3 linked regions of the Homo sapiens genome follow. The protein of the gene in region 3 purifies or fractionates together with the protein of the main gene of each other region. This does not show direct contact. Each region holds a gene or a part of one and is shown on either strand. Other genes may lie near its edges. The genes, in order: CLPB, HEPHL1 and SRMS.

The links.
Region 1: the proteins of SRMS (region 3) and CLPB purify together in Homo sapiens (affinity purification with mass spectrometry; 2 studies listed by BioGRID and IntAct, with this or other methods). This does not show direct contact.
Region 2: the proteins of SRMS (region 3) and HEPHL1 purify together in Homo sapiens (affinity purification with mass spectrometry; one large-scale study listed by BioGRID and IntAct). This does not show direct contact.

What each region holds. Positions count from the first base shown.
Region 1 is NC_000011.10:72,302,025-72,305,674, forward strand, and holds part of CLPB (mitochondrial disaggregase), read right to left. Parts: intron 938-3,650; exon of another isoform or gene 325-937; coding exon 280-324; exon of another isoform or gene 1-279. UniProt on the Homo sapiens protein: Functions as a regulatory ATPase and participates in secretion/protein trafficking process. Has ATP-dependent protein disaggregase activity and is required to maintain the solubility of key mitochondrial proteins.
Region 2 is NC_000011.10:94,066,220-94,069,869, reverse strand, and holds part of HEPHL1 (ferroxidase HEPHL1 precursor), read right to left. Parts: intron 2,900-3,650; exon of another isoform or gene 2,575-2,899; intron 2,436-2,574; exon of another isoform or gene 2,375-2,435; coding exon 2,120-2,374; intron 1-2,119. UniProt on the Homo sapiens protein: Is a copper-binding glycoprotein with ferroxidase activity. It oxidizes Fe(2+) to Fe(3+) without releasing radical oxygen species. May be involved in the regulation of intracellular iron content.
Region 3 is NC_000020.11:63,545,509-63,549,258, reverse strand, and holds the start of SRMS (tyrosine-protein kinase Srms), read left to right. Parts: upstream 1-1,509; 5' UTR 1,510-1,795; coding exon 1,796-2,151; intron 2,152-3,750. UniProt on the Homo sapiens protein: Non-receptor tyrosine-protein kinase which phosphorylates DOK1 on tyrosine residues. Also phosphorylates KHDRBS1/SAM68 and VIM on tyrosine residues. Phosphorylation of KHDRBS1 is EGF-dependent. Phosphorylates OTUB1, promoting deubiquitination of RPTOR.

The sequences.
Region 1 (3,650 bases), on a different chromosome or scaffold from region 3:
GGCATGCATGGGAAGATGACTTTATACGCTATTAAGGTTGCCTCTCTCAACAGAGATGATTGGCTGTCCATCTCCTGGTGTGGCAGATAGATCTTCTCTATGTTTATTCTTCAGAGCAAATCCTATGTGAAACAAATCAGTGACCCTGCTGCACACCTGTGCTCCCAACGACAAATCCCAAGGCTGCTGGAATTATCTGAGGCCCAAATGACAAGACCCCGGCAGTCATGCTGACAAGCCCTCCAAACCATGCTTCAATCAAGGACTGTCATCACTCACCTCGTGTCGCTCCTGGAACTCGGACATGTCCAGCCTGATGAAGCCCTGTGTGGAAACAAGCAAGTACCAACTCCGTTTGGAGGCAGGAAAGTGAAGAGAAGGGTTAGGGAGGAGAGCACCTCAACTATCCCCAAGGCTTTCACACCACACCAACATAAGATCTTCTATCTCACGCTCAAGATGTTTTTTTCTGACTTCCTGTCTCCTTTTCTGTGCACTCATTTCCTACGAGTCCCTCATTCTCTTCCTTAAAAGACCCAAATCATGTACCTGACCTTCTAAATCTGACTTGGGGTGTCTTCTTTCAGGGAGGCCTCTCCTGTTCTGATCACCACATCATCCACCCACCCATCCATCCATTCCACGTTTCCTGAGGGCATCCTGTGTGTGCTGGACACCGGAGTTACAACAGGGAACAAGTCTTGGTCTCTGTCCTTAAGAAGCACCCCATCGAATGGTGCAGACATGGACAAAGTCAGTCACGATCAGTGTGGACTGTGGTGCGAGGGAGGAGAGAAACACTCAGATGGCTCCAGAATGCCTCTCAACTCTGCAAGTCTGTGTGATGCCCGTGTCCCTTTGATTTACTTTTCTTCAAAATGAATATATTTTAAAATGTATTTACATTTCTTCATTTCATTAAAAAAGATATCCATAACATAGCTTTACAGCCCTTTTCTCTCCACCACAGGGTGTAGGGGTGATTTCCGAGGAAGTGGCCCCATGGGTGAGGGCCATGGTTAGCCCTTGGGGAAGAGAACAGCTTGCATTATGTGATCTGAAGAGTTAACACAGGCAGAGTGCCCACTGGTTTTCAAGAAGCATTACCTGATTAGGGAGCTGTAAAGGCATCCACAGGTGCCCTGTCTAGCCACAGCCAGGACCACAGTTCCCCACAGTCCCCCGGGCTCCTCTCCTACTGGCACATGCCTCCATCTAAGAGACAGCATTCACTGAATCCTGCTTCTCCTGAGAGCCGGTGATGATGGGGGTGCCAAGATTCTCAGCGGGAGGTAGCTATGTCTGAAATCCAGGGCTATATTCTAGCTTGGCCACTGGTCAGAAATTCACGCCATGATGTACTTTTAGTTCTTTCTCTGTCCTGTCATTCTACAGCTGAGACACAGGGTGGCAAGAAGAACCCTGGGCTGGGAGCCAGGGGGCTCGGGTTCCAGTCCTAGTTCTGCCTGCCTGTGGAGCCTTGGACATGCTGCCTCCCCTTTTTGAGCTGCAGTTTTGTCCTGTGTTACAGAAGGCTCTTGGCTCCTCTCCCTGCCTCACCAGGGGTCTGAGGATCTAATCCAAGAGGTGGGACAGGGCTTAGAGAAGTTATTAAGGCCACATGGGGGAAAGCACTGCTATCAGCACATGGGGCATAAGCCAGAAAGCATTTCCAGAGGGTCCCTAGGCTGCTCAGTCAAGAGATCTGCAGGTTTCAGGATTTACTGGGTATTTACTATGTGCCTGGCAATGTTTTAGGCAAGCTATAAAGGGCTTAGAACATGTACAAGTCTCTGAGGTAAGCACTACTATCATCTCCACTTTACAGATGAGAAAACTAAGTCACAGATTAAAGTAACTTGCTCAAGGTCACCTGCGCTTGGCAATTCAGCTCCAAGTCTGTGCTCTTAGCCATCATGCTACACTGCCTCATAGCTTCCTCTCTGCCAATCAGCTGGGCTCTTGACAGTCTTCACCTTGAAGGGTGCTGAGCTTTGTGTCCAGATGCCAATGAATGTCGGACGACAGATGGACTATAGACTCTCGTGCTTACTTATGTCAAGTGACCTGGGTTCTCACCCTAGTTCTTCTAATGATTTGCTATGTAATTTTGAACAAGTTTTTGGGCTTGACTTTCTTGGCCGGAATCATCATTTTGATTTCACATGATCTTAGTGAGGCAAGAACAATAAGAGTAACATCCAACATGTACTGATTGCTTACCACATGCCAAGAACGGCGTTTAACATTTTACATCACTATCTCATTTAACCTTCCGAACAATCCAGTGAGACTGGCACCATTATGGAGCCTACTTTACAGATGAGAAAGCTGATGTAAACAGAGGTCCTGGCCAACTCCACCTAGTAGAGTACAGTTGGGATTTGAACCCAAGCAGCTGGACTCAGATAGTTGTTCTTTATCCCTTATCATATTGCTACTATAACTAAGTCTTTTGGGCTCCACCACCCTACCTTATGATGATATCACAGAACACCATTAAGGTTCCTTCCCAAGGCTTATTAGCTCTAGTAAGGAAAGTTAACAGAGCCACTCAATTTGGAAGAAATAGTATACAGGCTAATGAGAGAAAAAAATAAGTTCACAGATCTGATAAAGAAATCATATAAATGTACAAAGAATGCTTCTGAAGCAGCAAGATCTGGAGGTGTCAGTGTCTCTTTACAAATGAAGAAACTAGGGATCAGAGAGCCAGAACTAGAATTCACATCATCAGACTCCAGGCCAGTGCTCATTTCATTTCGTCAGCTGTCTTGGGAGGCAAATTAAAGGGAGCTTCTGTTTGGTAAAAGTCTATTTTACACTGGGCTCTGAGAATGACACTTTCCATACATCACTCTTTGGGTCCCAGGTACACTGGCTACGTAGCTTAAAGTCCAGGGCTCTCTTGGATTTTGAAGGCAGGTCTCAAACATGCCTGTCATGTGGCTATAAAGTGTCTACGCAAAACACAGATTCTATAATGAGTTGACCCACAGGGCTAGCACAGGCAGGAGTTTCATAGAAGCACCACCTATGATTTAAAAATAAAATACATGGTTGTTTTTATGGAGCTTCTCATGCCTCTCATCTCCCAATGTGAAATGGGGACACACTGGCAAGTTTCCAATCCAGCTTCCTAGAGCAGCTGAGAACAACGGTATCACAGTGAGGAGTTGAGAGACTGGATTGATTCTGGTTTTATTTCTTCCCCTAATAGGTGACCTTAGATAAGCCTAAGAATGCTGTAGGGCCTCAGTTTTCTCATCTGAAAAGTGGGTCTAATTTAGCATCCATGCTATCTTCCCCATAGGATCAAATGGGAGAGTAGATGGGGCACTGCTATGGTAAGTAGGAAGTGACGAATAAATACAAGTCAAGGAATAGGCACTTGCTGTGTGCTCACCATGATGTGATGACATAAGTGATGAGCACACAGCATCGTCACTTGATGCTCACCATAACCTAAGATATGGGTTGGAGGGCTTTCACCTTGAGGCAAGAGAGCTGAAACTTCAAGGGGTAAAGTTTACCTGCCTAGGGCCAGTAGAAAGTAGAAGCACCGGAACCTGAAGCAAAGAATGGTTGCTCCAGAGCTCTGTCCACCACAGTGCACTGCCTCCGAGGGTGGTGGTGTTACTTCCTTCTGA
Region 2 (3,650 bases), on a different chromosome or scaffold from region 3:
GTATGTCCATAGCTTTTTTAAAAAAATCATACTCTTTGACCCAGAAATTCTAAATCTAGGAGTTTTTCTAAGAAAATGTTCAGACAAAAGTGCAAACATCTATAAATAATAGTCATCAGTGCTGTTTATAATAGCAAAAAAATTGGTGGGAAACATAAGCATTAAGCAATAGAGTATTGATTAAGCAAGATGTAATCTCCTTATAATGGACACTGGAAGTATTAACCATGATGAAGTAAGCTCTATATTCACCGACATGAAAATGTGTTTCTGATATATTTGTAAATGAGAAAAATTAGCTACAGTGCAGCATTAATAGACTGATTTCATTTTTTAAAATACATATATATTTACATATTAAGAAATAGAAAATAGGGAAGATATTCACCAAAATGTGAATATAAAATATTTCTATTATGGAACTACTGATTTTAAAACCAATTTATAGGGGCCAGATCCAGTGGCTCATGCCTATAATCCCAGCACTTTGAAAGGCTAAGGTGGGAGGATTGCTTGGGCCCAGGAGTTTGAGACCAGCCTGGGCAACATAGCAAGACCCTGTCTCTATTTGTTAAAAAACCTCCAATTATATGTATTTTCTAATTTTTTTACAATAACTTTTTTCTGAAGGCATGGACAATTTAGAAATACTGTATTTCAGGGAACGTATAAATACTAGCTTATGTCCACAACTATCGGGCTAATTTAGCGATCTTACTAGTCTCAAATGGCAGCTAATATCTTGATTTTAAATCTACAGTTTCTTCCCAGATTTAACAGCATAAGACTCTTTGAGAATAGAAACCTTCTCTTGTTAATCTTTGTTTTCCCAGAAGAGCATCTAGTACATATTAACTGATTAATTTTTCAGTTGAATGTAATTGGGATACTGCAGTTGACTAATGCTATGACTCACTGTGGAAGGTGGACAGGAACAAGAATGTGTTACAAAAGCAGCCCTGAGCAGCTGGATCTTTGCACCTATTAGTGACTATGGGAAGTTAGTATCCAAATATCAGACATTATTTCTTCTGTGTCTATTCCATTAACATATTTTTTCTGTCTTGGTTTCATCATCTTAGGGCAGACGTTTAGGTGTTAGACCTCTAACACTGTCAAATGCTTCTTAACTAGCATCCAGTGGTCAGAATTCCTCCATCAAGTCCTTCTTGCATGCATACATTTATCTTCTTAAATAACTGCACCGATTATGTCACTAGTGTGCCAAAAGAGCTAAGGATCACACAGCCCCACCTCCTTAGCTTTGCTAAGGGGCCTGATGAGCCTCCCAGGCTCTTCTGTCATCACTTCTCTGTAAGGAACATTATGGTCCAGCTAAGAAAGGACATAGTGTATGATGTCTGAAGAAACCAGGACCAGGTCATTCAACAGGCATTTAAGCCAACAAATGTTTATCATGCACCTATCATAGGACATGAAGGAAGCTATAGGTCAATGGATTTTGTCTCAATTTGAGGAAGAACATTCCAATAGAGCAGTCCAGAGATGAGATGAGCTGCTATAACTACTCACAAGAGATGTTCAAAACGAAATTAAATAATTCGAGGGGGGATTGGTCCTTATTATCCAGAAAGTCCTTTCCAGTGCTAAAACCTTATTACTCTACTTACAGTTGCTCAAAAAGAACATGTGTTTTTCCCAGTTCATGCTGCTTCCTCAAAAGTCTTTCTTTCCTTCTTCATCTATTCAGTTCCTACTCATATTTCAAGGCTCATGTTAGGAGCCAGCTCCTCAGGAAGCCCCTCTGATTGCTCCAGAGTAGTGACTGCAACACCCAAAGAGCATTTATCTCATTCTGCCTTAAATCGTATTCATTTTGTGAATGTCTAACTATGTCTAACAACTATACTACAGGTTCCTCGAAGGTCTCATCAATTTTTAATCACTTCCCCACTTTTTTCATACAGAAGTGGTCAATAAATATCTGTTGATAGAATATCAAAGAGATGAGCGTTATATTTTCCTGTATATTTATTACCTAATTAAATATAGTACATACAAGGCTCTATCTAACAGTAGGTACTGGATGAGCACTAGTGACTGTGTGGTTTGATTGTACCATTCTAAACATATCAACTCTGGTCTTTATCCTTTTTACCTTGTAGGTGGTCGCTGACCTGGCAGGTTATCATCCACTTCCCAGGATTCTCGGCTATCATTTCTGTTGTAAGGAAGGTGGCTGGGAACAGGTTGACGACATCAGTCCGATGCCCTCTGCTGATGAAGGTGTTACCATAGAAATAGATAGAATGGATGTCTATTTCATTCCCCATTCCAAATAGGTGCCAGGACACAGATTCTCCAACACACATATCAGGCTCCGGGAAGTTTCCGAAGAGGTATCCATTGAGGGCTGGAAACAGAAACACGCTAGTGGAAGAGACTCCCCTGCAGAGGCGACTGGGACCAGAAATGTTGGTAATACGGGCTTAAGCATGGCTGGAAAACCAGTGCAGACCATTGGTTGTAAGGTTTTGGTGCAGAAAAACCTGGCTCTTAGAAATATATATTGTCCAAAAGAGAAATGAAATGTTTTTATTGGCCTTTTTCCAGAGAAAACACTCAATAAAAGTGAAGATCAGCATACACTGAGAACAGCCTCGGAGCTGCTGTGGGAACGCAATATGAGGTCAGGAGAAAACAGAGTGCTGCTCATATTTACAGGAGGCTCAGTCACCTTCTGTCATAATCCTTCACTGGCATATCTGCTGTCTTCACCAGATTCTGTGCTCCTTGGAACTAGAAACCCTGTCTTGTTCATCTTAACAGTTATCAGGACCTAGCAGAAAAACTGGCACATAGTATCTACTTAATGAAGTGACAAAAGCATGTAGTAAGATGGAAAGAAAAGGAATTGATTAAAAGGAATTTATGAGAACTGTTTTGTTTGTTTGTTTGTTTACTTTAAAAAGCCAAGAGAAAAACAGTTTTTACTACATGTTGCTGGAGCAGAATCTTATTAAGTTTATGGCGTAAATCCAGGACCGAATACTTTAAAACCATCTAAATGGCAGCTGGGAGTTGACCAAGTTCAGAAAAGAACTTGATTCAGGGCTTTAAAAAGTCACAATATCCCTTCTTAAGTTCGAACTGAGTTAAAAGCAATTGTTGCTGAAATGCCTGATGACTTAGGCAGCACAATTAATTCTAAATTATTTTAGTAAATTTAAATAAATTGATCAATAAAACTTGTACATATTAATTATCTTCCATAGTCTAGATTTTTTTAATTAAATTTTTTCCTTTACTTGATTAGGTCTCTTTTTCCAGTCTCTCTCTCTTTTTTTTCTTTTGAGATGGAGTCTCGCTCTGTCACACCCAGGCTGAAGTGCAGTGGCACAATCTCAGCTCACTGCAACCTCTGTCTCCTGGGTTCAAAAGATTCTTGTGCCTCAGCCTCCCCAGTAGCTGAGATTACAGGTGCCCACCACCATGACCAGCTAATTTTTGTATTTTTAGTAGAGACAGGTTTTGCCATGTTGGCCAGGCTGGTCTTGAACTCCTGGCCTCAAGTGATCCTCCCACCTTGGCCTCCCAAAGTGCTGGGATTACAGGCGTGTGCCACAATACCCCACCCTTTTCCAGTCTTGAAGGATTGTTTGCAAACACACATCTACTTCAGCATACAG
Region 3 (3,750 bases):
GTTGTGGGGAGGAGACGGCGTCGGGGGCGGGAGGAGACGGGCAGCGGGTGGGGGGAGGAGAGGGCGGCGGGGGCGGGAGGAGAGGGCGGCGGGGGGAAGCGCGGGAGGAGAAGGCGCTGGGGCCCCTCGAAGGCCACCCCCAATGTAGTATTTACAATTCTCCACATTTCTCAACACCCCCCACCACCCCCAGCAGGGCACCTCTCTGGTGCAGAGCCTGCCCTGAGCCTGGCGATGTCCAGTCTCCCAGGGCCCCTGCTGGCTCCAGGCTATCAGCCCGGACACAGCTTGGCTGCTGGGGTGCCCTGAGAGCCAGGCCACGGGTGTCACTGCCACCCCACAATGCACACACCAGTCCCCAGACGTGAGGTTTCTGAGAAGCCCATCTGTGACTCCAGGGCAGGCAGGTGCGAGGGGCTTGTCATTGGCTGGACACTGGTCACGCCTATTGGAGGGATGCATTCAGCCACACGCATGAAGTGGGGGCATGGATGCGTGTGAGATGTGGGAAAGGGGCGTGAGGCTCCCTGAAGGCCACCCAGGTGCGGAAGGGGCTGCTGGGGGAGGCCGGCAGGAGGAGTGAGAGACTGCAGATGGCCTCACCCCACCCCCGTGCCTCAGGACCCAGAGGGGAGGTGGGAGGAGTGAGAGACTGCAGATGGCCCCCACCCCACCCCACTCAGGACCCGGAGGGGATGTGGGAGGAGAGAGAGACTGCAGATGGCCACCACCCCATCCTCCTGCCTCAGGACCCTGTACCGTGCTGCTGGGTTTTGCTGGGATTTGCTCCCCCAGTCCTGCCCCGATCTGGGGACCTACCTGAGCGGGCAGAGTTTGCTTCAGCATGCGGGGGCTTGGCGCTGTCCAGGGAGAGGGTGGGAGGTCCCCAGCCAGGGACTCACCCGCCGCCCCTTCTCCGTGTGCTCATCCCCCTGAACTGGGGCCAGGCGTCCGCAGCCTCCACTTCCCCGCAGTGGCCTTTGGGTATGGCCTGGGCATTGACTGACTCAGAAGCCGGTCATCGGGCAGCATGGGGCATCTGGGTGCCTGGCCTGCGGCCGAGCTCCCTGCAATCAGCATCTCGTTTTACTGCATGAAAGCCGGGGTGCTGAGAGCCCCCTCACTCGCCTGTCCTCAGAATTTACTGCAGAGGCCGGAGGCTCGGCACCTGGTGCAGGGTTAATGATGTTAAAATATCTGGCCAACACTTAAATAAGCAGGCAATTTTTCACCTGAGTGCAGCTCAGGCTTGGCAACCACTGCAGGTGCTGAACAGCAGCGCTTCTCCGTGGAACCCCCACTTCTCCGTGGGCACGGGCGGCTGTTGGACTGTGGTGCCCTTGGGCATGGGCCAGGCCTGACTGGGCAGAGCCATTCCGCCTGCCTGGGCCTTGCAGAGGGCGGGAGAGAGGCTGGCCCTGCCCACCCCGCCCTCCTCGGGCCCCTCCTGGAGCCCGCCCCCGCCCCAGCCCAAGCTGCCCTCTGCCGTCGGGTTGGGGAGGGGACGGTGCACTCCAGACGCCAAGGAGGTCGAGGACAGGAGGTGCTGTCGGTGTGCCTGAGGCAGGGGGTCCGCCCTGCGCCCCACCCAGCCCCAACGCCAGCCCGGACGCCGGTGGGAACCGTGTGCCTCCTGGATCCAGGGGACCTCTGAGTGACCGCAGGGCCGGGGTCCCCTGTCACCCCACGGCCAGGGCAGGGAGCGCTGGACACCGGGTCCCACCGGCCCTGCCAGTTCCTCTTCCGGGCTCGCGGGCTCCCATGGCCCTCGGGCCCAGCGTGGTGACCCCGGGGGATGGAGCCGTTCCTCAGGAGGCGGCTGGCCTTCCTGTCCTTCTTCTGGGACAAGATCTGGCCGGCGGGCGGCGAGCCGGACCATGGCACCCCCGGGTCCCTGGACCCCAACACTGACCCAGTGCCCACGCTCCCCGCCGAGCCTTGCAGCCCCTTCCCTCAGCTCTTCCTTGCGCTCTATGACTTCACGGCGCGGTGTGGCGGGGAGCTGAGTGTCCGCCGCGGGGACAGGCTCTGTGCCCTCGAAGAGGGGGGCGGCTACATCTTCGCACGCAGGCTTTCGGGCCAGCCCAGCGCCGGGCTCGTGCCCATCACCCACGTGGCCAAGGCTTCTCCTGAGACGCTCTCAGACCAACCGTGAGTACCTCGGCCTCGGAGTCAGAGCCTGCCTCGCCCCCAGCTGGGGAGTCCAGAACAACGGCAGGATTTTGAGTTGGAAATCGCATGTCCGTGGCTATCTGTTCATTCATTCGTTCATCCACGCATTCATTCAGGGACAGCTGATGGGCCCCGGGCCGGCAGGTGTGGTAGGAAAACAGCAGTGTCCGCTGTGGGCTGCCGAGAGGGAGAGGAGGCTCCGGCAGGCGTGGTCAGGTCCTGTGGGGGGGAGCATCAGCTGCACCAGCTGGACACCCAGCAGGCGGTTCCTCCAGGACCCTGCCTGGCTGGCCAGGCCCTCCCGCCCTCACACAGGGAGTCCAGTGTTCATGGATCGGTCACTGCTTGGAGGGCAGGGGCTGGGGGCTGGGAGGCACCAGATGACAGGAGCTCCAGGAGCTCTGGGTGACGGCAGGTGAGCAGGGGCTGGGGGCTGGGGGCTGAGACAGGGGCCCATGCTCCAGGAACTCTGGGTGAGGGCAGGTGAGCAGGGGCTGGGGGCTGAGACGGGCCCACGCTCCAGGAGCTCTGGGTGAAGGCAGGTGAGCAGGGGCTGGGACTGGGGGCTGAGACAGGGGCCCACGCTCCAGGAGCTCTGGGTGAGGGCAGGTGAGCAGGGGTTGCAGAGGCGCCTAGTCCAGATGCCCAGTGCGGCTGCTCTGAGCGGCTGCCTTGGTCTGGCATCCAGCTGGGCAAGGCCTGAGCCCTGGAGACCTTCGGGGTCAGCCTTGCTCAGGGCCACTTCCAGCCTCCTGGGGGCCCTTTGGCACTCACACATCGTCCTGGGGGTTGCATGGGCGGGTGAAGCCGGAGTCACAGGAAGGGGCCTTCTGAGGGGCCCCAGGCCCTCACCCCACACCTGCCCCGCTTGTCCTGAGCAGTGGTTGGGGGGCAAGCAGCCTTTGTGATGGGAAGGGGCTCACAGTCACCCCAGGTGTGGAGGACAGACCCCTTCAGCAGTTCCTGGAGGGCAGGGCTCGTGGTGGAGCAGGGCGGTCCATAGGCAAAGCTAATGACTATTTGCCTAGGCTGGAGATTAAAAGACTAACCACACTCAGGTGTCATTAGCTCCAGACACCTGGCCCCACGCCCCAGGGAGAGACCTCAGACACATCCTCTGCATCTCAGGATCCCACAGGGGCTCACCTCTGACCCCCAAGCCCTGATGTGGGCTTCAGAGGAGGCTGGCGATGTTTTGGGGAAACACCTGTGTCTCATCCCCACACCCCACGGTGCTGGGAGGGACCTGAGTCCCTTTACACGTGAGAGGGTTGCGTCTCCCTGCCAGCAGACCCCAGAAGGCAGGGGCCCTGGCTGCAGGAGGAGCTCCATGGACAGAGCGTCCATGGAGTCAGTGCCTCAGGCCGCTGCCTCTCTGTCCCTGGTCCCACACCTCTTCCTGTCTCCATCTTCATTCCCTTCAACTTAAGCCCAGCCCCACGGCCCTGGTCATGTCAGTTTCTATTCCTGCTGCCCCCATTGCCCCCTAGGTCACCGGGGCAGGGGTGCCAGACTGTGTCCTCCGTCTTGCCCAGTCCCAGTCTGCCAGGATGGCATGGCCGTGCCCCAGCCCCGAAT